Linked DNA regions of Homo sapiens: regions 2 and 3 are each linked to region 1. Evidence: fine-mapped expression QTL. Tissue or cell type: whole blood. Region 1 holds a variant in brackets; each other region holds the start of a gene. All regions are shown on one strand. Distances are from middle to middle.

Region 1 (8,106 bases):
TGGACATAAACCATTTCAATCTATTCCAGCAAATGGGGGAGAAAGACTGACTTCCCTCTCCTCCAAAGCCACTCTTTGATCCCAGTTGATAACATCTTCTTTAAGCCATACATGCCAGTGTAGTGAGCAGATGGAGCTGAGAAGCATTGCTCAGTATTTAGTATTAGAGGTGTGTGCATGGGCAGTTGTGGTTGGTTTGTTCACGTGCACATGGAACAGCTTACAGGGAACAATAGGTGCATGGAGTCATATTGAAGAAGACATGGTCTCTGCCTCCAGGTAATGCATATTCACATAAATTACTGCTAAACACAATTTAAAACTTGAAAATCATTCAAATCTATGTTTGAGGACCCACAAAATACACACAAAACTGGAATTTTAATTTGTTACTCCAAATCCCAAGTGGAACAGCTTTGCATATGAGGACGGAAGGGATGGAGCAGCTCGCTGGGGAATGTGTGGATTCGTGCTTCTCTGCTATGTGGAAAGTATGGTTAAGAGTGAAGGCCCCAGGGCTGGGTATGGTGGCTCACTCCCGTAATCCCAGCACTTTGGGAGGCTGAGGTGGGCGAATCACCTGAGGTCAGGAGTTCGAGACCAGCCTGGCCAGCATGGCGAAAACCTGTCTCTACTAAAAATACAAAAATTAGTTGGGCATGATGGCGGGTGTCTGTGGTCCCAGCTACTTGGTAGGCTGAGGCAGGAGAACTGCTTGAATGCTTGAACCTGGGAGGTGGAGGTTGCAGTGAGCTGAGATCGCGCCACTGCACTCTGGCCTGAGCGACGGAGTAAGACTCTGCCTCAAAAAAAAAAAAAAAAAAAAAAAAGAGTGAAGGCCCTAGAACCGACATGTAAGGGTTTAAATTCCAGCTCTGTCAGTTACCAGCTGTGTGGCCTTGGGCAAATACAGAAACTTTATTTGCTATAGTTTCCTAATTTTTACAATGGGGGATAATGGTAATCCAATGACATGATGTTGTTGTATAAATTAAATGAGTTAATAAATATGAAATGCTTCAAATAGTGCCTGACACACTGAGCACTCCAGTAACAGTAACAGTTACTCTTAATACCTGCCCTAAGAAGTATTGGTGGGAACTATATTCAAGGACTATAAATCTTTTTAAGTTACTCAAAATCAAAACCCTTTGTAAATCATTTTACCCCTCCACATCCTCACTGTGAACGTAATAGCAATGTATGTTTAATTATATACTGACCATTCTCCATTGCAAGGATAAACAGCTTAAACAAGAGGAATCTCCGTGAGTTCCTCCTGCACTAGACACAGCATATTTTCTAACTTAATCCTCACAACCACCTTAGGATATGGATATTATTATCTCTAATTTATGATAAACTAAAACTATTGTTTAAGGTTAATTACCTTGTCTAAGCTCACATCTAGTAAGTGATTGACCTGGGCTGGGAACTGGGTTTTTGTGACCCCAGAGTCCACGAGACAGATTTTCAGGTGAATAAGATTCAAAGAATTAAAAAAATTTTGAAACCAGTTGTGTAGATCTTTATATCAGAAAAAAATTCCCAGCTCAGTTTCTGGTAGCTTAGAGGCAGCAATTTCTTGTGTTCATTTCTTGGGAAAGACGTGTCAAGTCAAGTTGGCTGTGGTCCCAGTTTCTACCGAGTTGTAGAAGCTATGTTGTTTTTTGAGCTAGATCAGCTGTGAGCATTTGACATTCTGAGACATAAAGTCAATATAGAAGAGAACCTCCCCTCTCACTGTTTATTCTCTGCTACGATTGTAAATGTCTCCCAGCTTTCTGCCATTTCCAAAGCATTTACTTTTGTTCAGAAAAAAAAAAAAATCCCAGAAATTAAAGGCCCAGACTAAACAGCATTCATTTATTTAAAACATTACGTAGATATAACCTGTCACTTCACTTTGCTTAAAACCCACCAGTGGCTTCCTGCTACACTTGGAATAAGCCCAAATACTTCATCATGGTGCAGGGGTCCTTGCTCATTTTGCTGCCAAGCCTCTATCCCTACTTTTCTAGAAATAGCACTCAAATTGGATTCAGTGGCTGGAATTCTAAGTGGTGATGTCCTGCCCTCCCTCAGCTAAGAGGTAGACCCAGGATACAAGCAAAACCAGACACCATCTTTCTGGAATTAAATCTTGAGCAGTGAGACAATAAAATGAGGATGAGCTGGAGCTTTTGCGCCCCCTTGGCAGTCTCTGATAAGACCCGATATTCATCAGTTCCTGCTACCTTGATCCCCAGAGCTGCCCTCGTTCCCATCTTTCTGAGCTGCCCCATGTCTTTCTCGCATATTCCTTCTATGCCTTTAGGTCAGCCACAGTCAGGTTGGGTGTTTTTGTAGCCAAAGATTCCTATCTGGCACACCTGCCTGGCAGGGCCTCCCTGCAGTGGTCCCTCAGTGTCTGCGGGGGCATTGGTTCCAGGACCTCCCTGAGATACTGAAATTCACAGATACTCAAGTCCCTGATATAAAATGGTGTAGCATTTTCATATAACCTCAGCAGGCTGGGCTCTCCACCCTCCTTCCTCTCACTGCATGCACCTCACCCTCACTAACTCTTTGACTTACTGGGCTTGTTCCCGCCTCAAGGCCTTTACCCCTTCCCTTGGTCTTGGCTTCTTCAACCCAAATATAACCCCTTCAGAGAGGTAATTGCTGACTTTTCCATATCTCTCTATCTCATAGCCTGTTGGATTTCCTGTGTTGTATTTATTAAGACTTAAAATGATTTTGATCTTTACTTATTATTTCCCTATTTGAATATCAGCTCTAAGAACGTAGGGACCTTGTCTATTTTATTCACTGGTATTCCCAGTAATAGCATTGTTACAACAGCATTTATCACTTAATAGGTGCTCATTAAATATTAATCGTATGAATGAGTGTGTTGTCTGTGGTACATCCTATGTGTAGCAATCATATGTCATATAACCTACAGGTTAAGAGCCTGTGTCTTGGAGTCAGACTATTTGGGTTCAAACCCTGGCTGTCATACTTGTATACTGTGTGACTTTGGGCAAGTTGCTTAACCTCTTGTGCTTCAGTTTCTTCATTTCTAAAATGGTAATAATAAAAATGCATAAGTAAGATGAAGGGTAAGTAAGATGATTCACTAAAAGCCCTTGGTACATTGCCTGGAAAACAATAAGATTCAATATTTGGCAACTTACATTATTAGAGCACGGTTGTCTCTCCATATCCGTGAAGCCTTGGTTTCAGGACACCCCTGGGATACCAAAATTCACAGATAGTTAAGTCTCTGATATAAAATGGTGTAGCATTTGCATGTAACATATGCAAATCCTCCTATATACTTTAAATCTCTAGATTACTTATAATACCTAATGCAATGTAAATGCTTTGTAAATAGTTGTTATGCTGTATTCCTTTTATTTGTATTATTTTTCTTGTTTTTTTAATTTCCTTCCCAGCATTTTCAACCCAAGCTTGTTTCAATGCACCCATGTGGAACCTGCGGATATGATGAGTGATTGGATTTCTCAATTGTAAGAAGTTCTAGTTAGAGATTGTATGATGCACTACTGGCTTAATAGTAGCTCTTTTGGCCGGGCATGGTGGCTCACGCCTGTAATCCCAGAACTTTGGGAGACCGAGGCAGGCGGATCACCTGAGGTCAAGAGTTCAAGACCAGCCTGGCCAACATGGTGAAACCCCGTCTCTACTAAAAATACAAAAATTAGCCTGGCATGGTGGCGTGTGCCTGTAGTCCCAGCTACTCAGGAGGCTGAGGCAGGATAATTGCTTGGACCCGGGAGGTGGAGGTTGCAGTGAGCCAAGATCGCACCACTGCACTTCAGCCTGGGCAATAAGAGTGAAACTCTGTCTCAAAAAAAAAAAAAAAAAAAAATGGAACTGTTTTGGAGAAAACCAAAGCCAAGTTCAACATTTAATATATACCACTTGGGAAAACTCTACTTACAATAGCATGCATTATCTGCCACAATACATGCTACTTTGCTCTTCAGACTAACAAACACAATTCGGTCCCCAAGTACCTCTGTATCAAGCAGGGCCACTGGCAGTTATACGTAATGTAATGATTACCCTTGCACGAGATCTGGACCTTGCTAGCATATTTGTGAGGCTGCAGAATAATTTAAAGAATGCAGTGGGATTATGTGTGTGTTTTTTTCTTTCTTTCTTTTCTTTTTTTTTTTTTTTTTGCATTTCTCTTTTGGCTATTTTGTTTGTATTGCTACTGTTAACTGAATTATAAATAATAGGAAATAAAGAGCTTCTGGGAAGTAGCTGGAAGCTTTTGACAGATTTAGACATCTGAATGATAGCTCTTCACATATCAGTTGGTCCCAAAAACTTTTCCTAGATTTCAAAAATTTGTGATTTGTTCTCAGCATCTTGACAATTTTATTAATTATATTATCCAGTGTATGACTATTTCAATTGTATATTATCCAGTGAATGATTATTAATTTTATGCATGTACAATATATTTTTTCATTTCTATACTGCATTATAATGGGATCTTTTAAAAGACCTTTTAAGTGATAATTAAGATGTGAATTTAAGTTTATCAACTTTCAAAGGAAATAACAAGTAACAGAATGATGAAATTGTTAGCTGGTGTAATGCCTCTGTGACATAGCTGAATTTCTGCTCTGCCCTAACACTGCTTTAAGAAACAGGATGCCTGCAATAAAAAGTTCCCTTTGTAACCGGAACAGTTGAGACTGGTTAGAACCAAAATAGCTGAGCAAATGACTTCAGAAAGAACTCGGGCTTCATTATAATCTCATTTCCATGCTAAATGACACTCTGACCATCACCATAACAGTGGACAATTGCTAGGACAATGACCAGAAGAAGCTATAAAAGG[A/T]CAAAAAAGGAGGAAGGCATCACTCCAGTTCTGGGAAGTTCACTGACCCTTTCCAGAAAAGACCTGAGTCTTCCTCTTTTCATTTTCCTTTCTTTTTTTTTTTGAGACAGAGTCTTGCTCTGTTACCCAGGCTGGAGTGCAGTGGTGCCATCTGGGCTCCCTGCAACCTCCGCCTCCCAGGTTCAAGTGATTCTTCTACCTCAGCCTCCCAAGTAGCTGGGATTACAGGTGCGTGCCACCACACCCAGCTAATTTTTGTGTTTTTAGTAGAGAAGGGGTTTCACCATATTGGCCAGGCTGGTCTTGAACTCCTGACCTCGTGATCCATCCACCTTGGCCTCCCAAAGTGCTGGGATTACAGGTGTGAGCCACCGTGCCCGGCCCCTCTTTTCATTTTTAATGTCCATCCTCTTCGTTAGAGAAACTCTTTATTTGCACCCCTCACCCCTCACTGGTCAAGAAGTTGATTTGTGAGCCATGCTTCCACTTCTTAATTCCATGGCCATTGAATAAAGCCTGCTCTACTTGACAATTTTAGTTTTGTGTATTGGCTTCATGACACTGAACATGGAAAGACTTCATGTTTTGAGGGATCCACTTTGTTGGTTATAAGATGATGCCCCCCATCTTATTGTTTTTCCAAATGTGTAGGCAATAAAAACTTTGCTGAGTATACACTACCCACTCATTCCTTACCTCTGGGCTGTCAGCTCTAGACACACATTAGAATCACCTTACAAATTCCAGATTCTCAGGCTGCATCTTAGACCAACTAAATTAGTAACCTGGCATCAGTATTCTTTCTTTCTTTATTTTTTTTTGAGACGGAATCTCGCTCTGTCGTCTAGGCTGGAGTGCGGTGGCGCGATCTCGGCTCACTGCAAGCTCCGCCTCCCGGGTTCACGCCATTCTCCTGCCTCAGCCTCCGGAGTAGCTGGGACTACAGGTGCCCGCCACCACGCCCGGCTAATTTTTTTTGTATTTTTAGTAGAGACAGGGTTTCACTGTGTTAGCCAGGATGGTCTCGATCTCCTGACCTCGTGATCCGCCCTCCTCGGCCTCCCAAAGTGCTGGGATAACAGGCGTGAGCCACCGCACCCGGCAGCATCAGTATTCTTAAAGTTCCCCAGATGATTTCAGTGTGCAGTGGAGGCTGAGAACCACCACTCTATCAATGGCTGAAGAGTGTCTTTCTTTCTTTTTTTTTTTTTCTGCGACAGAGTCTCGCTTTGTCACCAGGCTGGAGTGCAGTGGCACAATCTCAGCTCACTGCAATCTCCACCTCCCGGATTCAAGCGATTCTCCCGCCTCAGCCTTCTGAGTAGCTGGGATTACAGGCATGCACCATCACACTCGGCTAATTTTTGTATTTTTAGTAGAGACGGGGGGTTTCACCATGTTGGCTAGGCTGGTCTCGAACTCCTGACCTCAAGTGATCCACCCGCCTTGGCCTCCCAAAGTGCTGAGATTACAGGCGTGAGCCACCACCGCTCCCAGCCTAAAGAGTTTCTTTTGACATGTGTTGTAAGATGTGTCTTGATTTGAGAGATGTTAAGGTGTAAAAAACAAAACAAAAAAACCAGCTGGGTCTGGTGGTTCACGCCTTTAATCCCAGCATTTTGGAAGCCCGAGGCAGGAAGATCCCTTGAGACCAGGAGTTCAAGACCAGACTGGGCAACATAGCAAGATTCCATCCCTACAAAAAATTTTAAAATTAGCCAGTAGTGGTGGTATGTGCCTGTAGTCCCAGCTGCTCAAGAGGCTGAGTCAGGAGGATCCCTTGAGCCCAGAAGTTTGAGGCTGCAGTGAACTATGATCATGCCACTGCGTGCCAACCTGAGTGACAATGTGAGACCTTGTCTCTCAAAACAGAAACACAAAACACAACCCTTGCATCTGAGAAATAAGAAAATTGTAATTGCTATTATTAGTCTAGCCCTAGAAGGATTCAGACCATGAAAAATATCATATTGGGTCAGATCAATTTTGTGGGACAACTGATGTTCCTTAGTTGTTCTCCTTTTACAGTGTCTTTGACATTGTTTACTAGGAGTGCACCCCATGTATTATAAAGCTTCCTTTGGTTACTGCCAGACACCTGGCAAGAGCTTAGAAATGAAGCTTGATGCATAAAGGAAAAAAAAAAGGAAAAAAGGGAAACAAAACAAAAAGCATGGTGTGTGATGCGTGTGAATCTCCTGGTCACTGGGTGCACCCTTGTATCCTGTACTCTTTTGGGCCCCTGATTTCACATCCCAACTCCCCTTGGAGTTTGAGGTCAGCCTGACCAACATGGAGAAAACCCGTCCCTACTAAAAATGCAAAATTAGCTGGGCTTGGTGGCACATGCCTGTAGTCCCAGCTACTTGGGAGGCTGAAGCAGGAGAATCGCTTGAACCTGGGAGACAGAGGTTGCGGTGAACCGAGATCATGCCATTACACTCCAGCCTGGGCAACAAGAGCGAAACTGCGTCTCAAAAAAAAAAAATAGACTCAGTGTTTCATCTGATTCCTTGGGATTCTCGCTTTCCCCATCCCTAAGGCAAGGAGAGCAGATGCTCAGATTCTCTTAATATCAAAGCAAAGTGTCCCCTTAGCTAGGATGATAGCTAGCTTAGCCTCAGCATATGTGTTAATTCTTGGTCTGACTTGAAATCTTGAAGATGTGGAATTTGATAGTGGCATGGAGGTTTGGCTGGACCTCAGAAATTTTAAAGACTGAGTGATTTCTTTCCTATAAAGAAATTTGTGGTTTTCTGCTGGTGTATCAGGTCTTAATACAACACTACACCTAGATAAAGTTTGCGTATTCTGCAAAGCCTGTTATTTCTGCCAAAATGCCAATGATAAAATCAACCTCTTGAGAAGCTACAATTAACCTTCACCTAGTCATCATTTCAAGCCTGCCCAACCAATAAGCCTGCAGACATATTTCTTCACATCTGAGAGAAACAGTGCCCACCAGGCAATTAGGAAAATACGTTGAGATCCCATATGAAAATCAGCATTACGGCAGGAACAATTAGGATCCTCATTTACTGCAGGTGATTTGCTCATTTTAAACTAATTAAACTACTAGGTTGAAAACACAGTTCAGAAACAGAGTGTAGAGTAGTTCATATTTAATACCTCCATCTTTCCTTAAAAATTGTTTGTTAAATGGAAGCCTAACAATAAATCAAAAAGTCAATAAATCTTTGCTACTAGAAGTGGGTTTAGATAAGATAAAGATGGTTCCATTT
Region 2 (8,106 bases), 23 kb before region 1:
TTCACAACAAATGGTCAACATCCATGACCTAACGGGCCACCTAACACTGCTTTCCAGAACACATCATCTTCGTTTTCATCCAAGTTGTTTGAATGTCTATAATGCTGTTACTAGAACCCTCACCAGCTATTAGATACCTTCGAATGATTGGATAAAAGTACCTTCTCTGGGGCAGACATAGGCAATGGCTGGTGCTCTAGTACGTGATGACCGCTGTCACAGGTAATAGTATCTTAAGCCACAAATACCCATTTGCATAGTATTACCCAGTTTAAAAAAATCCTTCCATGTGTGTATTTTCATTATCTCTATAACCATGATGTTTTGCCTTTTTCTTTTAAGTAATCTACAAAAAGCTTGTTTATATAGTATATATTCCACACTTGCAATTGTGAGGTTATACCCCCAGGAATAATGACTACATCTGTATTAAATTTGCCTCCTTTTTAATGATTCCACATTAGCACGAACTTAAGTCTTCTTAAAAATATTTCAAAGTCTCTCTTGAGAGATATGTGGTTGCTCAGAATAAAGTAAATGAGAAAATACTTCCTTGCATGACAGACTTTATAAGGACAGGAACGTAAGGTGATTCCCTGTTTTCTCACAAATAACTTCTTAGAGGTAATCTCTCCTTATATTTGGGAATATATAAGACTTCAAAAAATAGATCTTGGCCATACTCTTACTTACTGGTCTCTAAATATTTGTTACATATGACTGATAGTAAAATATATGAGCATCTCCAATATACTTTATAAATTACATGCATGTACTATGATTACTAGTATTTTATGTAAAAAGTGGATATTTTCAAAAGGCTTGTAAAATAAAATAAAGAAGATATAACAAATATTTTTAAATTGTATGTTTTATTTTTATCCCCAGCATTAGTCAGAGGGCCTGGGTACTTCCGGGAAGACCTCTGGAACACCTGTCAATAAACCTGAGACTTGCAGGACAGGCAAGAGTTGAGCATAGAAATGTGGTAGGAAGGACACTGCAAGTGAATCGGGGGCCCAGAGTGGGGATTGGTTTGTTGGGAGAGCAAGGTGGGTACAGAGGGTAATGGAAGATAACAAGGGAAGAACAGGCCCACCTGGACTGAGAAGTGCTTTCGAATACTTGCTTAAGTTCTATGGCAGGCAAGAGGAGCCAATGATAATTGAGCAGGGGCAAGATGCGTTGCTTTAGGAAGCTTGAGCAGACCACAATGCACAGAATGAGACGGGATCATATACTCAAATGCCTTCAGGAGCTAGGCAGAGAAAATAAATGTGTAATTGAGGTCACATAAAACAAAGAAGAGTACTGGGCTAAGAAATGGAGTGTGCAAGTCCTGACCACAGGCGCTAAAAATTAAATTCCTGAAAAATGTCTTGGCCAACAAAGTATGTCTGCTATCCTTATTCAGCCTCAGGCTGCCGGTTTTACCACTTCTGGAAAGCAAAATAACCACGTGAAGTCAGCTGCAACAAATGGGTAGCTAGAGCCTCACCAAGGCAGGAAGAGATAATGGAGGAGAGCACGTCATTCAAGGGAACCTATAGAAATCAACAGAAATTGGCAAACAGTTGAACGGCAAAAAGTGAGACTAAAGTTTGCGTCTGGATTGTCAAGATGACAATGGCATGAAAACAAAAAACACAGAGGCCAGTCGTGGTGGCTCATGCCTGTAATCCCAGCACTTTGGGAGGCCGAGGTGGGTGGATCACCAGGTCAGGAGTTCGAGACCAGCCTGTCCAAATGGTGGAATCCTGTCGCTACTAAAAATACAAAAAGTAGCTGGGCATGGTGGCATGCACCTGTAATCCCAGCTACTCAGGAGGCTAAGGCAGGAGAATCACTTGAACCCGAGAGGCAGAGGTTGCAGTGAGCCGAGATTGCATCATTGCACTCCAACATGGGTGACAGAGTGAGACTCTGTCACAAAACAAAACAAAACACGGGAAGATGGGGCAGGATTGGGAGAAATAATGGTTTGAGTTTTTAACGTACTGAGTTTGAGGAAATAGGAAGATATCTAGATATGTTCACTAAACACTCAGAAATGTACGCATAGAGTTAGAAAAGGAATTCAGACTAGGGATCCATATTTGGGATTCATCTGCACAGTTATTGGAGAGCAAGGGAGGTGGGAGAGGAGCTTGGACACACCTACTTGCTCTACTTTATGAGGGCAGGAACCATCCTGTTTAGACAGACGACTGTGATGGAGTAGATATTTGATGAACACGTGTGGAATGAAACATGTTCATTGTTGTATCCCCAGTGTATCGCTATCAGAATTTACACACGTCGGAATTCCTGGCTTATATCTGCACTCACGTAGAAAAGGAGAGCCCAGTGAAGAAACTGGCCGGAGAACCAGGAAAACCATAAAGCACTGCATAAGCCACTGAAGGAAAAACATACAAGATTCTCTGGTGCTCTATGATGCTAAATGCTACAGAGGCGTGAGTGTGTGTTTCTAATATATGCTCAGTGTCCCACCCTTCCGCTTAAAATTGTTAAAAATAATTTTTAATGAGAGGCGCAGTATGGTGTACTTAGTAGCATTCCCTTTGTGTAAATAAATTTTTAAAAGATAGTGGCCGAGTGTGGTGGCTCACACCTGTAATCCCAGCACTTTGGGAGGCCAAGGAAGGAGGATCATTTGAGGCCAGGAGTTTGAGAGCAGCCTGGCCAACATGGTGAAACCTTGTCTCTACTAAAAATACAAACTTAGCCAGGTGTAGTGGTAGGAGCCTGTAGTCCCAGCTACTCGAGAGTCTGAGGCAGGAGAATCGCTTCAACCCTGGAGGCGAAGGATGCAGTGAGCCAAGATGGCGCCGCTGCACTTCATTCAGCCTGGGCGAGAGTGAGACTCTGTCTCAAACAAAACAAAACAAAACAAAACAAAACAAAACAACAAAACAGTAAATATATGTATACATAAAGTGTTTTCTAAGGTGCATTTAAATTTTTAAGGATACATTTTAGCAGTTGCTACCTTGGTGGAGGCCTAGGTCTTTGGGGTGAAGAAGAGTTACTTTCCATTTGAAAACTGTTACAGTTGCAATTTCTTACTATGAGAATTTACATTCATTTCCTTTCTTAAAAATTCCTATGGGGTTTCTTGGGCACTGGGATTATAGACCATTTTTTTTTCTTCACACCTTTACATAATTAAAAAGTTCTAATAAATGTTTATATATATTTCCCACTGCCCCTGGGATGTATCCCAATCTTTTATTCTTTCCAATATGTCTCTACCTGGCTTCTCCAGTTTCCTCTCCCAATACAGACTCACACCCGCCCTCACTCCAGCCTGCACACAATCCCTCTCCCTGCCATGTCCTCCCCAGTCCTTCCCCACTGCCTCTCGCCCTCTTCGCAAACTGTCAGGCAGAGATATTGTCCCTCTGTAGGTCCAAAATCACCCTAAGGAGGTCTCTGCTCCCGCCCCCACGCCGTGGATGGAGGTGGTCCCTGACCAGCCTTCCTCAGCAGCTCTGGGGGCAGGCCTCGGGTGTGGAAGGGCTAAGGGTCGGGGGAGTGTGTGTCTTCGGGGAGGACGAGTCCAGGGCATTGCCTGGCCCTGGGCCGCCTTTGCGAAAGACTCACGGAATTCCAGGAGCTACACCCACTCAGGAGAATGGGTGGGCGGCGCTCTACGCTTGGAGCGGGACCCTGCCCCTCCTCTGCACCACACTTAGCCACTCCCAGAGGCCTGAGACTTACGACCTTTTCCCAGCTCGGCGTTTGTCTCCCCTCCCAAAATACCAAGCTCCAGCAAGGCAAGATTTTTGTCCCTTTTGTTTAGGGCTGAGTGTCCAGGGCAGAGAATAGTGTCCGGCATACAGGACAAGAGGCCCCCGTCACCTCTTGATTAAATGCTGAGAGTCAAAGTTCCAAAAAAGTTTGTGAAGTGGACAGGCGAGAGGGGCCTGGGCTTTTGCCCACCTGGCGGTTTCCAGGGGCGGACGGCACAGTGGTTTGGGCGGGACACTGGCGGGTGGCACCTCGGAGACATGAGTTCGGCGTCTGTTGGGAGGCCTAATCTGTCCCCCAGGCTGCCCGCCCACAGCCTAGACACGTCTCCTCTGGACTTCGGGGCAAGGACCGGGTGCAAGGGACCACTCTGAGGGGTTCTCCACCTCGTCCCGCCCGGCCGCGGCCGGAGACTCCGACTCCGGGCTGGACCCCGGCCCGCCGTCCCGCCCCCGGTTACCTTGGGGCACTTGTCGTAGTAGTGCTGCTGCGTGCGGATCCAGCGCCCCACCAGGTGGTCGCGCACCGTGTGCGCCAGCGCGAAGTAGTAGTCGCGGGTGGTGGCCACGTTGCGGTCCTTGACCAGCGTGAAGTGCAGGTGCCGGTTGAAACTCTTCTTCAGCTCTGCCACGTTCTCCACGCCCACGATGCCGCGGATGCTGATCTGCCGCCGCTTCTCCTGGTCCGTCAGGGGCTTCGCCATGGCTGGGGCGGCGGGCTGCGCGGCGGGCTGCGCAGAGAGCTGGAAGTGCGGCCGGAGGCGCTGGGCTGCCGGGCAGGGGTGGAGTCCGCCCCGCCGCGCCAGCAGCTTTCAACGCGCACGAAAGTTTGGGGCCCGCCCCCTCGGGCGGTGCCGTCCCCGCTGCACTCCCACCGCGTCCCGGCCCCTGCCCCAGGCCGGAGGGCAGAGGAAGTGCCCGGCCCCTCCCGAGGCTCTGGGGCCGCAGTGGGCTCGGGGGTGGGAGACGAGGTCCAAGCGCCGGCGAGACCCCTGCCAGCCCGGGACCTGGGCTCGGAGGCTCCCTTCCGGATTTCCAAAATCTGCGGAGGCAGCATTTGTTCCGCCTCTCCCCTCTAGAGTGTGGAGACAGGAGGACGTCTGTGTAGGGAAGCACGTCGTTGGCAGACTGCTGTTTTGCCGATGTTTATTTGTTATGCCATTATGACTGTTAGGATTTCTCACCTGGAGTGGCTTCCGCCATAAGCGCCGGGATCTGGAAGGACGGCACGTTTGACTTCTGTTGTCCCAACCTCACTTGCCAGCCCTTGGCACCGCCCCAGCTTGGATCCTCAGGGCGCCTCTGTTATTTTCATTCATTTTTTTTGAGGACTCCAGGGTTCAGGTTTCTTAACTCCTGGACCAAAGTTCGCCCCGCTCGTAGCACCCTGTCTCTCATCCTTAGAGGTAGGTTACTAAGAATCAGAGTAGGTGAGGTGAAGCTCTAGGGTCATTATGCGGCAGGGGCTTTTACCTTAGGCTTCTTCGAATTACGTTTTAACTGCAGTGGAGGGTGTGGGGGGAGGAGAGGGAGAAAACAGAAGGGTATGTGTGTGGAAAATGAAGGGATTACTCACTGGACTAGTTGCCTTCTTTACAAAAAACAACCCAGTCTGTGTTACTGTGCGGTACAGGCTGATCTTTGCACCTCCACTTTGGGTGGTATTTGAATATGCGTGTTTATGTGTGCTTAAACCTTGGTAAAGGCAAACACTTGGCATTTTAGGATGTCAGAGGTTTTTTCTTCCTCATTAAGTAGTATTAATATATTATTTTAGAAACAGTCCATTGCCAGAATTAAGTTTTCTTTTTCCTTTTTCTTTTCTTTTTCTTTCTTCTTCTTCTTTTTTTTTTTTTTTTGAGACGGAGTCTCACTCTGTTGCCCAGGCTGGAGTGCAGTGGCGCGATCTCGGCTCACTGCAAGCTCCGCCTCCCGGGTTCACGCCATTCTCCTGCTTCAGCCTCCTGAATAGCTGGGACTACAGGCGCCCGCCACCTCGCATTTTTTATTTTTTATTTTTTTATTTTTAGTAGAGACAGGGTTTCACCATGTTAGCCAGGATGGTCTCTATCTCCTGACCTCGTGATCTGCCCGCCTCGGCCTCCCAAAGGGCTGGGATTACAGGCGTGAGCCACCGCGCCCGGCCAATAGTCACATATATTCTTCTAAGTTTATTTGTTTGTTGTTTTTTGAGACAGGGTCTCACTCTGTTACCCAGGCAGAGTGCAGTGGCGCGATCTGGGCTCACTGCAAGCTCCGCCTCCCGGGTTCACGCCATTCTCCCGCCTCAGCCTCCCGAGTAGCTGGGACTACAGGCGCCCGCCACCACGCCCGGCTAATTTTTTGTATTTTTAGTACAGATGGGGTTTCACCGTGTTAGCCAGGATGGTCTCGATCTCCTGACCTTGTGATCCGCCCTCCTCGGTCTCCCAAAGTGCTGGGATTACAGGCGTGAGCCACCGCGCCCGGCCAAGTTTTCTAGAAAAATCTTAGTATACTTATATTAATATATTTTGTTTTTTATAATAAACCCAAGTTGATTATTTTGAATTCACACATGGTGGTGGTGGGGGGGGGGGGGGGGGCGGGTAATGGATTAATTGATTCAGACCAAATGTGACCCTCACCATAAAAGTGAAAGTTCAAAGCTCATAGTTCTGACAAAATTTCCTGAATCCTTGTCCTCCCAGATTCTGAAGTTTGGACTTGAGCTTTTGGGGCAGAGACTGAATTGGGCCTTATGCAACTCTTGCAATACCGATGACCTGCAAAGGACAGTATGGAAGAGATGAGCATTAGAGTTTGGATCCGGATGGGGCCAGAAATACCCTGAATTAAGAGTGGGAAGGGGGGGCCCATCAAAATCATTGATCTTAAAAATAAGTAAGGCCTGTGGGGTGAAATTTGAAATAAAGCAGAAAGATAAGCTTCTTTGATTATTATATAACTTAAAAAAGTGTTTATCAGCTTTGAATACCCCCAAGATGGTCACAGCATTAAGCCAGTTATGGGTCATTCGTACATAAGTGTGAAATTAGTCACTCAGCTTTAACAGCTGGATGAAAAATAGGGTAGAGCCTAGGATGAGGGAATACCAGGTCTGAGTAGGTCTTCCTCCCAGAAAGGTCTCTGAGCAGGAGAAGGCATCATAATGTCTGGGCATTGGGGAGTGAATAATTAGGGGGCACACAAGAAGGGATGAAAGACACCAAAAGCAAGCTTACTCGGTTTCTTAGTTTTGCTTAAGACAGTTTCAAATAGATGGCTCCCAGCTCCGCTGTCTACTTTCCTGTACTAAATTCTTGTTGGAAACTCAGGGTAATGATGAACTAATGAACACACTATTTTCTTGATTCACTATCCAGTCGGTGAGCCTGCACCCCCGGCTTGAACAATTCTCTATGCAGAAAAATCATGAACTATAGAATGCTCAATATATAGAGTATGGGGAAAAACTATCCATCTCCATGTTAAAAAGAACGTGATGGAACCAGGTGATTTAGGGTGTTCCATAGACCCAGTCTTAAACGACAATGAATTACATTGCAAGACAGTTATTCCCCTTTCACTTTTCTTTAAGTCTTTCTGGAAAGTCCTTTGTGTTAACATGTTAGCATTTTTTAATCTATATTTTTAACAGAATGCAGGTACAGACTCTAAAAGTTCTTGAAGTTTTAGCATCTAACTAGAATTTAATACAATTATCTTCCATTTATGGTAAATGATACTTTTTCAGTTGACATTCTGATATAAACTTTGTTTCATCTGCTTGTTCTGTGCTAGTCTAGGACACTGAGGCCTTGAGAGGTTAAGTTACTTGACTAAGAAAATTAATATCTTTAAAAACCTTTCCTTTAGCCTCTCTTGACCAGAAAGAACCAGAAACTATGGATCCCTGAAAAAGTATCAGATTTCAGTGGCTCACATGTTTATAGCAGCCTTACTCACAATGGCCTATATTATTCCTGCTTCTCATCCACTGCTTCCCCGTGGCTGCTGTAACGAAATGGCGTTTGTAAGTAGCTGAACAAACAGTCCAGAACTCATAGGACAAGTGTAAGTTTCCCACTGTTGGAAATACAAAAAAACATGAGAAAGTAGTGTGTTAGTTCGGGTCTTCAGAGAAGCAGAAGCTAAAACAGGATTAAACATGTTAAGATTTTTTACTGGGGTAAATGCTTGTGGGAGGGAAAAACGGGGAGTGCTAGCCAGAGAGAGCATCAGACTGTGATGCCAGTGTGACCTAGAGTGAAGGGGAGAGAGAGGGAAGGGTAGAAGGGCATATCTCAGACAGCCCTGTAGTCCCAGGAAGATCCAGCAGTGCTGCTGGGCAGTTCTGGAGGGCATCTGCTGT
Region 3 (8,106 bases), 270 kb after region 1:
ATATAAAAAGGATTATAATACTATGAACAACGTTAGGCCAACAAATTAGACAACTTACATGAAATGGACGTATTCCTAGAAAGATGCAAACTACCACAACCAACTCAAGAAGAAATAGAAAATCATAGTAGACTTATAACAAGAGATTGAATTAGTAATTTAAAAGCTACCTACAAAGGAAAGCCCAGGCCTAGGTGACTTCACTGCTAGACTCTATCAGACAGTTAAAGAAGAGTTAATACAAATTCTTCACAAACACTTCCAAAAAATAGAAAAGGAGGGAACACTTCCCAGCTTATTTTACGAGGCCAGTTATATCCTGATAGCAAAACCAAAGACATTACAAGAAAACTACAGACCAATATCTCTAAGGAATATAGACATAAAAATATGCAACAAAATACTAGCAAACTGAATGTGGCAATATATAAAAAGAATTATACACCATGGCTAAGTGGGATTTATACCAAGAATGCAAGGTTGATTTCATGTCCCAAAATCAATCAATGTAATACACTGTATCTTTGGGAGGCTGAGGCAGGCAGATCATGAGGTCAAGAGAAAGAGACCATCCTGGCCAACATGGTGAAACCCCGTCTCTACTAAAAATATAAAAATTACCTGGGCGTGGTGGCACGTGCCTGTAATCCCAGCTACTCGGGAGTTGAGGCAAGAGAATTGCTTGAATCCAGGAGGCGGAGGTTGCAGTGCGCTGAGATCACACCACTGCACTCTAGCCTAATGACAGAGCAAGACTCCGTCTCAAAAAAAAAAAAAAAAAAAAAACAAAAAAAACACCATATCAATAGAGTAAAGGACAAAAACCACATGGTCATTTCAATAAATGCAGAAAAAGGATTTGTCAAAATTCAACACTTCTTCAAGATAAAAACAGACGACCTTCTAGGAATAGAAGGAAACTTCCTCACCTGTATAAAAGGCAACTATTTAGAATTCACATTAACATCATACTTAGTGGTAAAAGACAACGCTTTTCTCCTAAGAACAGGAACAAGATAAGTATGTTTGGCCACTCTTGCCATTTCTATTCAACATTGTAATGGAGGTCTAGTGTCTTAGCTTGGGCTGCCATAATAAAATATCATAGACTGGGTGGCTTAAACAATAGAAATTTATTTTCTCACAAATTTAGGAAGTTCTCATTGTACTCAAGGCAAGAAAACTCTGGACTAGGGTGTTGGCTGTTGAGATGGAAATTGGTGGTCAGATTCAGGATACGTTTTGAAGGTAACGTTTACAAGATTTGCTCATAGGTTACAAGAGGAGAAGGTGAAGAGAGAGAACAATAAAGAATTAACATGTACATGTTTGGCTAGAGAAACCTGGTGAACCTCGGGGCTCTTTAGTGGATGGAAGACCAGGAGAGGAAGAATCAAGAATTATCTTTTTTGGCCGTTTGATGTTTGAGCTTCTGAACCCCCAAAATCTGAGACAGGTCTCAGTCAATTTAGGAAGTTTATTTTGCCAAAATTAAGAATGCGCGCCCATGACATAGCCTGAGGAGGTGCTGAGGACATGTGCCTAAGGTGGGTGGAGCACAGCTTGATTTTATATTATATATTTTAGGGAGACATGAGACATCAATCAACATATGTAAGATGAACATTGTATTGGCCTGGAAAGGTGGGACAACTCAAAGCAAAGGCGGGACAAACTCGAAGCCAGGAAGGGGCTTCCAGGTCATAGGTGGGTAAGAGACAAATGGTGGCATTCTTCTAAGTTTCTGATTAGCCTTCCAAAGGAGGCAATCAGATATGCATTTATCTCAGTGAGAAGAAGGATGAGAGGCAGGTTTGCCCTAAGCAGTTCCCAGCTTGACTTTTCCCTTTAGCTTAATGATTTTGGGGCCCCAAGATTTCTTTTCCTTTCACCAGCTATTACATACCCAAGAGATGTTTAGCAAGGAGTTGAATACATATGCCTGTAGTTCCCAGAAGGATCAGAGTCTGAATGATATACAGTTGAATACATATGCCTGTAGTTCCCAGAAAGATCAGAGTCTGAATGATATACAGTTGAATACATATGCCTGTAGTTCCCAGAAAGATGAGAGCCTGATGATATGAAGAGAAAGGTGGCGGGAGATGGGGGGCGGGGGGCAGTAAAGCATCCTGGAGATGCCGATGTCCGGAAGTAAAGGAGGACCAGCCAAGAAGTTTGAGAAGAATCAGCTACTGTAGGACAGAAAAAAAAGCGAGCTGCCCAGACAGCAAGATAGTAAAGTGTTTCAAGGGTGTGGTAGAATGGGGCTAGGAGTCATGCTAGATGCATTGAGAAGAAACAATTGGGATTTATCTTGCTGGTCGCTGGTGTCCTTGAGAGGGCTATTCAGTGGAGGGGTGGGGAAGGGGACTAATTGGGGTTAATTAAGTTGAAAAGGTGAGGTAAGATAGTGGCAACTATTTCCTTGAGACTTAGTCTCTCTCTATAGCCCAGATTGGAGTGCAGTGGAATGATCTCGGTTCACTGCAACCTCCGCCTCCCGGGTTCAAGCGATTCTCCTGCCTCAGCCTCCTGAGTAGCTGGGACTACAGGCGCCTGCCACCACGCCTGGCTAATTTTTGTATTTTTAGTAGAGACGGGGTTTCACTATGTTGGTCAGGCTGGTCACAAACTCCTGACCTCAAGTGATCCGCCTGCCTTGGCCTCCCTGTTTTGCTAGGATTACAGGCGTGAGCCACCGCACCTGCAACTATTTTCATTTGACTGATGGGGCAGTGCACATTTTGGTTTGCATTTGTATTTACGAATGTTTGAGAGAAAAAACTCAAATATCTTACAAGCCTATGTGTCTGGTTCCATTTTGAAGTACTGACCTAGGATCTCTGTACCTACTGAATTTTTTTTGAGAGATAACATACACCTGAAAGTGCATAAAGTGCACTGTCTTAAAATGTACAGCTTGATCCTTCTTTAAAAAAAATCATATACGTACGCCCATGTAACTACTGTTCATATCTAGATGTTGAACACCTCCAACACATCCAACATAACCATAATGTTCCTCTGCACCTTCCCTGTCTATAATCTCTCAGAAGTAAACCAATATTCCGACTCCTATAAAATCCATTAGCTTTACTACATGTTTCAAAGAAAACAAATGAGAACTCTGAAGGACATTTAATTGGAAAACTGCTTTAGCACATTATAAACTTACCAATTTGCTTGTAAACGCTAACCATTTGGCGCCAAAATCCTGGGAGGGTCTTTTAAACCGTTCTTCCTCAAAGCACCGCCCCACTTTTTACACCACGCCTCCTTTTGCTCTGTTCCTTCCCCCACAATATTGGGACACCCTAGGCGGTAGAAGCAGCCGCTTTTCTGTCATGCGCATTGCGGAGAGTCGTTCTTCCCTCTTTCCCGACTTCACCACTCACTGGGATCAGACCCCTGTCATGCGCATTGAGAGTCCTCTAGACAGGCGCTCCTCGCAGCACCGTAGTGCGCTTGCGCTGAGCAGCCCGCGAGGGCGGAAGTGGGAGCTGCGACCGCGCTCCCTGTGAGGTGGGCAAGCGGCGAAATGGCGCCCTCCGGGAGTCTTGCAGTTCCCCTGGCAGTCCTGGTGCTGTTGCTTTGGGGTGCTCCCTGGACGCACGGGCGGCGGAGCAACGTTCGCGTCATCACGGACGAGAACTGGAGAGAACTGCTGGAAGGAGACTGGATGATAGAATTGTGAGTGCGGGGCGGCCAGGGTCCTACGTCCGTGCCTGGACACACGACTTCACCCCGCACGTTCCTCGTGCGGGTCGCAGGCTCCCCAGGACTGCGCCTCCGAGTTGCGGAGCGAGCGTCCCCGACTTCTGCAGCTCCCCAAACTCTTGGGATCTGCCGCCAGCTTGGTCCCACCCCCTCGTCTCTTACCCGTGAATGTTAAGTTTCTTCTGGGGTGCACCCTCGTTTCGTTTCTTGGGTTGTGGTGCGCCCAAAGGGTTAGTGCCAATGCGAATTCTGACATTTTTCATGACTTTGAGGATGCGACTGGGGCGCGGGGAGGGAGGTGTCCGACTCGTGTCTAAGTAGTTAAAGTGATTCTTCACAGACTTCTACACTTATTTTCACCACATTTTACATAAGAGAATATTGAGCAAAATTTCTCCTCTCGTTTTGTCTGTCCTTAAAAGATAGTCTCTTTATGGTGTTGGAATTTGGCGCTTTTAAGCTTTTTTTAATGGATTGGGTACGTTTCTTTTTTATTGTAAATACTGAGTCAATTCAAGTTGGGTTATTTTTAAGTTTTCGTTTTCTCTTTTTGCCTCCTCTTTTGCTTTCTCTTTTTTTCACTCCTCATCTCATTTTTCCTTTGGGTGTCTTTGTAGTGTAGAGAATACCTTGGGTTGTGACTCCTAGGTCTTTGTAAATGGTATTACATTAAAAGATAATGTATTAATGTATACACTCTCAAGAGCGCCAGGTCATCATTTATTGCTCGAACGAAATCATGTATTTTGTGTGGTGATTTCAATTTAATAATATCTGTTCTGCCGCGGTGGGAAATAAAGTATCTGTCTTTGCTTTAGATGCTAAGTCGTTGTTGATGGTGGTATTATACATATTAGCAGTATTTACTGATAATAGTAAAAGCATAATTATTAACAGTGTACTGGACACCACTAAGCACCTTTACACGAATACCATATTTAATTCCCTACAAATTCTCTATGACAGGTGTTTTTCACGTTTTACAAATGAGTAACAAGATACCTAAATACTTTAGTTAACCTATGCAGATATTGCTGTGCTGGCTTTCTTTGGGTCTTCAGAGTAGGCATACAATAATTGTTGTTAGAACACCTTCTTCTTTAAAAAGGTTCAGCTGGAAGTGGCGTACGCTACCCAGGAGATTGAGGTATGAGGATGACTTGAGCCCAGGGGTTCAAGAGATCCTGGGCAACTAGCAAAATAAATAAGTAAATAAATAAAAATGAAAAGACAACAGGGTTCAGGTGAGTGTTTTCTTGTGTCACGAATACAGCAAGGGTTGTCAAGTTAAGGAGGCCAGTGAAAGTGACATCCCCAAGGGAGAACCCAGAAGGCTAAATCAGTAAGTCCTGTGTTATTTTTTAAAAAAACAAAACTGGCCGGCGCGGTGGCTCACGCCTGTAATCCCAGCACTTTGGGAGGCCGAGGCCGGTGGATCACGAGGTGAGGAGATCGAGACCATCCTGGCTAACACGGTGAAACGCCGTTTGTACTAAAAATACAAAAAATTACCTGGGCGTGGTGGCACGCGCCTGTAGTCCCAGCTACTCGGGAGGCTGAGGCAGAAGAATCGCTTGAATCTGGGAGTCAGAGGTTGCAGTGAGCCGAGGTCGCACCACTGCACTCCAGCCTGGGCGACAGAGTGAGACTCAATCTCAAAAAAAAAGTAGAACATTTATATGGAGGGTAAGATAAAGGGAAATTTTCATAGTATGCATGTAGTCTGCAATTCTGAAATGAATTTTCATTCAGGCACCATTGAAAGCTTCAGGGGAGAGGAACTGTGACACTTTTTCAGTCATCATCATGAGTAACTTGTTTTAGATCGTGCCTGTAAAATAGTGTTATAAGCAATATATTAAGCAATAGTGATCGTGTGTGTATATGCAAAATACAGTCAAGTATTACTCAAGGATATTTTTTAACTCATTATGGTCCAACTATATAAATACAGCAATCAGAAGTAGTATTAAGGAGAACAAGACTAACAAAACATTGAGTATGAGGTAAATCCACATTGGAGCATCTATCTGAAATTATGCTATAGAGTAGTAGTTTTTCTTTTTCCTTAAGTAGAGATTCTAAAGTAAGTTTTTAGAAAGCAACTGACAGCCTGGGCAACATGGCAAAAACCAGTCTCTACAAAAAAATACGAAAAATTAGCTGGGCGTGTGGGCAGGCATCTGTAGTCCCAGCTACTTGGGCTGAGGTGGGAGGATGTCTTGAGCCCGGGAGGTTGAGGTTGCAGTGAGCCCAGATGGCGCCACTGCCCTCCAGCCTGGGTAACAAAGCGAGACCCTGTTTCAAAAAATAAAAAAGCAACTGAGCAACAAAACGAACCTGAAAAAGAAGGACTCTAGTAGTTTTAGTAATAGTCTGCTCCTAATTACAAGTGAATTATCTACAGTAAATCCATTTCTGCTCAGAAGTTTTGTCATGGAGATATTTTCATTGTAATACGATTTATTGTTAGGAGCTTGGCTTTTATACTACCAGTTTGTCTTGTTCTACAATGTCTATTTTAGGAGTTTGGTTTTCATAAAACAAGTGAAGAAAATGTGAAGTACAGAAAGTATAGTTTTGTGTTTAACTGCTTTAGGCTTTATTCTTCCTGGTTCTGTTAAAAAAAAAAAAAAAAAAAGAACAACCCTGTGGTGTATTATAAGATAAAATACAATAAAGTGGAAAAATAAGATCCTCAGGAGATAATACCAGAGGAGTAATTTAAATGCTAATATGCTTGCATTTGTAAATCCAAGGTCTTGGAAACAGGATGACCTAACTGGCCAAGAGTTTTGTTTGGCCTGCTTAGTATTTGTGTGTGGGTTATTTTTTGAGGTAACATTCTCATATAAAAATGCAGCTCTCCATCTTCTTTTAAATATGAATAGCCAGCCTTAGTGTGCCAGCATCCTTAGTGGCAATCCTACTTAATAATGGTTGCCACTTTAAGATGGAATATGTGCTTTCTTATTCACCACAGCCCAGGACACTTCTGTTTTTCCAACACCTTGCATTTGTGACTCTGCATTATAAATTATTAAAATTGGTAAGCTCTAACTTTGGTCTTGAGCTTTCTGGTGGCCACACCGTTAATAGAGAAATGCAAAAGTTTTCTAAAGAGCTGTTTTGCATGTGAAAAAATCCTGTGTCTTATTCTCAGAATTTTATTTGATTAGCATCATCAGTTCATCATTCTTGATTTCCGGATTGTTAGATCTACCCTTAAAAGTTTTTCATCTGCATAAAATTAACCACCTTATCATCTTCAGTGTTTTCATATGAAATATTCTTCATAAATTATACATTTAAATTTTTTATCCCAAGATAAATGGTCATACTAAAGTGCTTAACTTTTTTTAAAAAAAAATCTGTATTTCTTAGTTATGCCCCGTGGTGCCCTGCTTGTCAAAATCTTCAACCGGAATGGGAAAGTTTTGCTGAATGGGGAGAAGATCTTGAGGTTAATATTGCGAAAGTAGATGTCACAGAGCAGCCAGGTACTGTAAGTCTTTGGTTAGTTTTGTTTCTTTGCTGTTTGGGTTGATATATTTATCCTTTTTTCTACATTGCATAGTCTTAATTCTACCTTTCTTTAGGTTTTGAAAACCTAACAGTCTGCAGCTAGTTAACCTGACTTGTCCACCTCCCTGCTGGGGGCTCAGTGTGCAATGGTTGCAAAATGGAGATTCCCTGGTTGTGTATACACCTCATTTCTTGAATGTGTTGCTTTAAGGGTTCTTGAAGACATTACCCTCTTTTTATTCTTGCCCACATAACTGCCTCTGATTTGTTGTTCTTTGCATCCCAGGCCCCAGACTAGTATGTAAGATGCCTTTGAGAAGTCCTAGGACACTGTGGTTCAGGTGAACATTGGCCAAGCCACATTTGCATCCATACCAGGCTTCAGAATAAGGAGCATGTGGTTGAGTGTTTTTCTGGAGTCAAGGTCACGTTCCCTGACAAAAGAAGACCTGAATCTCTGAAATTGAGTTTTAAATTTAGTACCTATGATTTGAGGATGTGGGCTTCTAAATATAAAGCCCTCGTGGTTGTGAGGTCAAGTGCACTCCTGACTTGGTCCCTGGACAAGTGGCAGGTCCTGCCCTTAAGGAGGTTCCTTCCACAGACCAATCTCATCTTACCGTTCTCGGTAGTCACACTACCCTTGGATTCTTGGCTGTCCCATCCCAAATGGTAATAATAGGTAATATTTATCGAGCGCTTGCCTATTATAGCACTCTTCCAAATATCTTGTGTTTATTATTTAATCCTTATACAACCCCGTGAAATATGTAATGTCCCCATTTCACAGATAAGAAAACTGAGGCACAGGTCAATTCTCTGTAATATCAGTGCTTGACACATGGCTAACAATAAATGTTA

What was found. PIP is the estimated chance that this variant, and not a neighbour inherited with it, causes the effect.
Region 2: PYGL starts here. The variant in region 1 is fine-mapped to the expression of PYGL in whole blood (TOPMed, PIP above 0.99).
Region 3: it holds the start of TMX1, and the variant in region 1 is fine-mapped to the expression of TMX1 in whole blood (TOPMed, PIP above 0.99).

What each region holds. Positions count from the first base shown.
Region 1 is chr14:50,963,232-50,971,337 of GRCh38, forward strand. No RefSeq gene overlaps it. Among named protein-coding and RNA genes, the nearest start is that of PYGL, 23 kb to the left of the region's middle. The variant A/T (reference allele first, on the strand shown) is at 4,865.
Region 2 is chr14:50,939,948-50,948,053 of GRCh38, forward strand. PYGL (glycogen phosphorylase L) reads right to left here and starts at 4,536. Exons shown (of 20, transcript NM_002863.5): 1 at 4,214-4,536. The coding sequence starts at 4,456. It overlaps LOC124903314 (a long non-coding RNA gene), which reads right to left and starts at 2,643. Exons shown (of 2, transcript XR_007064163.1): 1 at 2,162-2,643; 2 at 854-1,258. LOC400212 (a long non-coding RNA gene) reads right to left here. Exons shown (of 4, transcript NR_170195.1): 3 at 7,701-7,820; 4 at 6,343-6,517. RefSeq lists an enhancer at 3,364-3,887 and a silencer at 4,556-4,715.
Region 3 is chr14:51,236,752-51,244,857 of GRCh38, forward strand. It overlaps TMX1 (thioredoxin related transmembrane protein 1), which reads left to right and starts at 3,496. Exons shown (of 8, transcript NM_030755.5): 1 at 3,496-3,693; 2 at 7,105-7,220. The coding sequence starts at 3,542. LOC124900346 (small nucleolar RNA SNORA70) reads left to right here and starts at 7,339; the gene lies at 7,339-7,473. RefSeq lists a silencer at 3,332-3,674 and an enhancer at 3,535-3,774.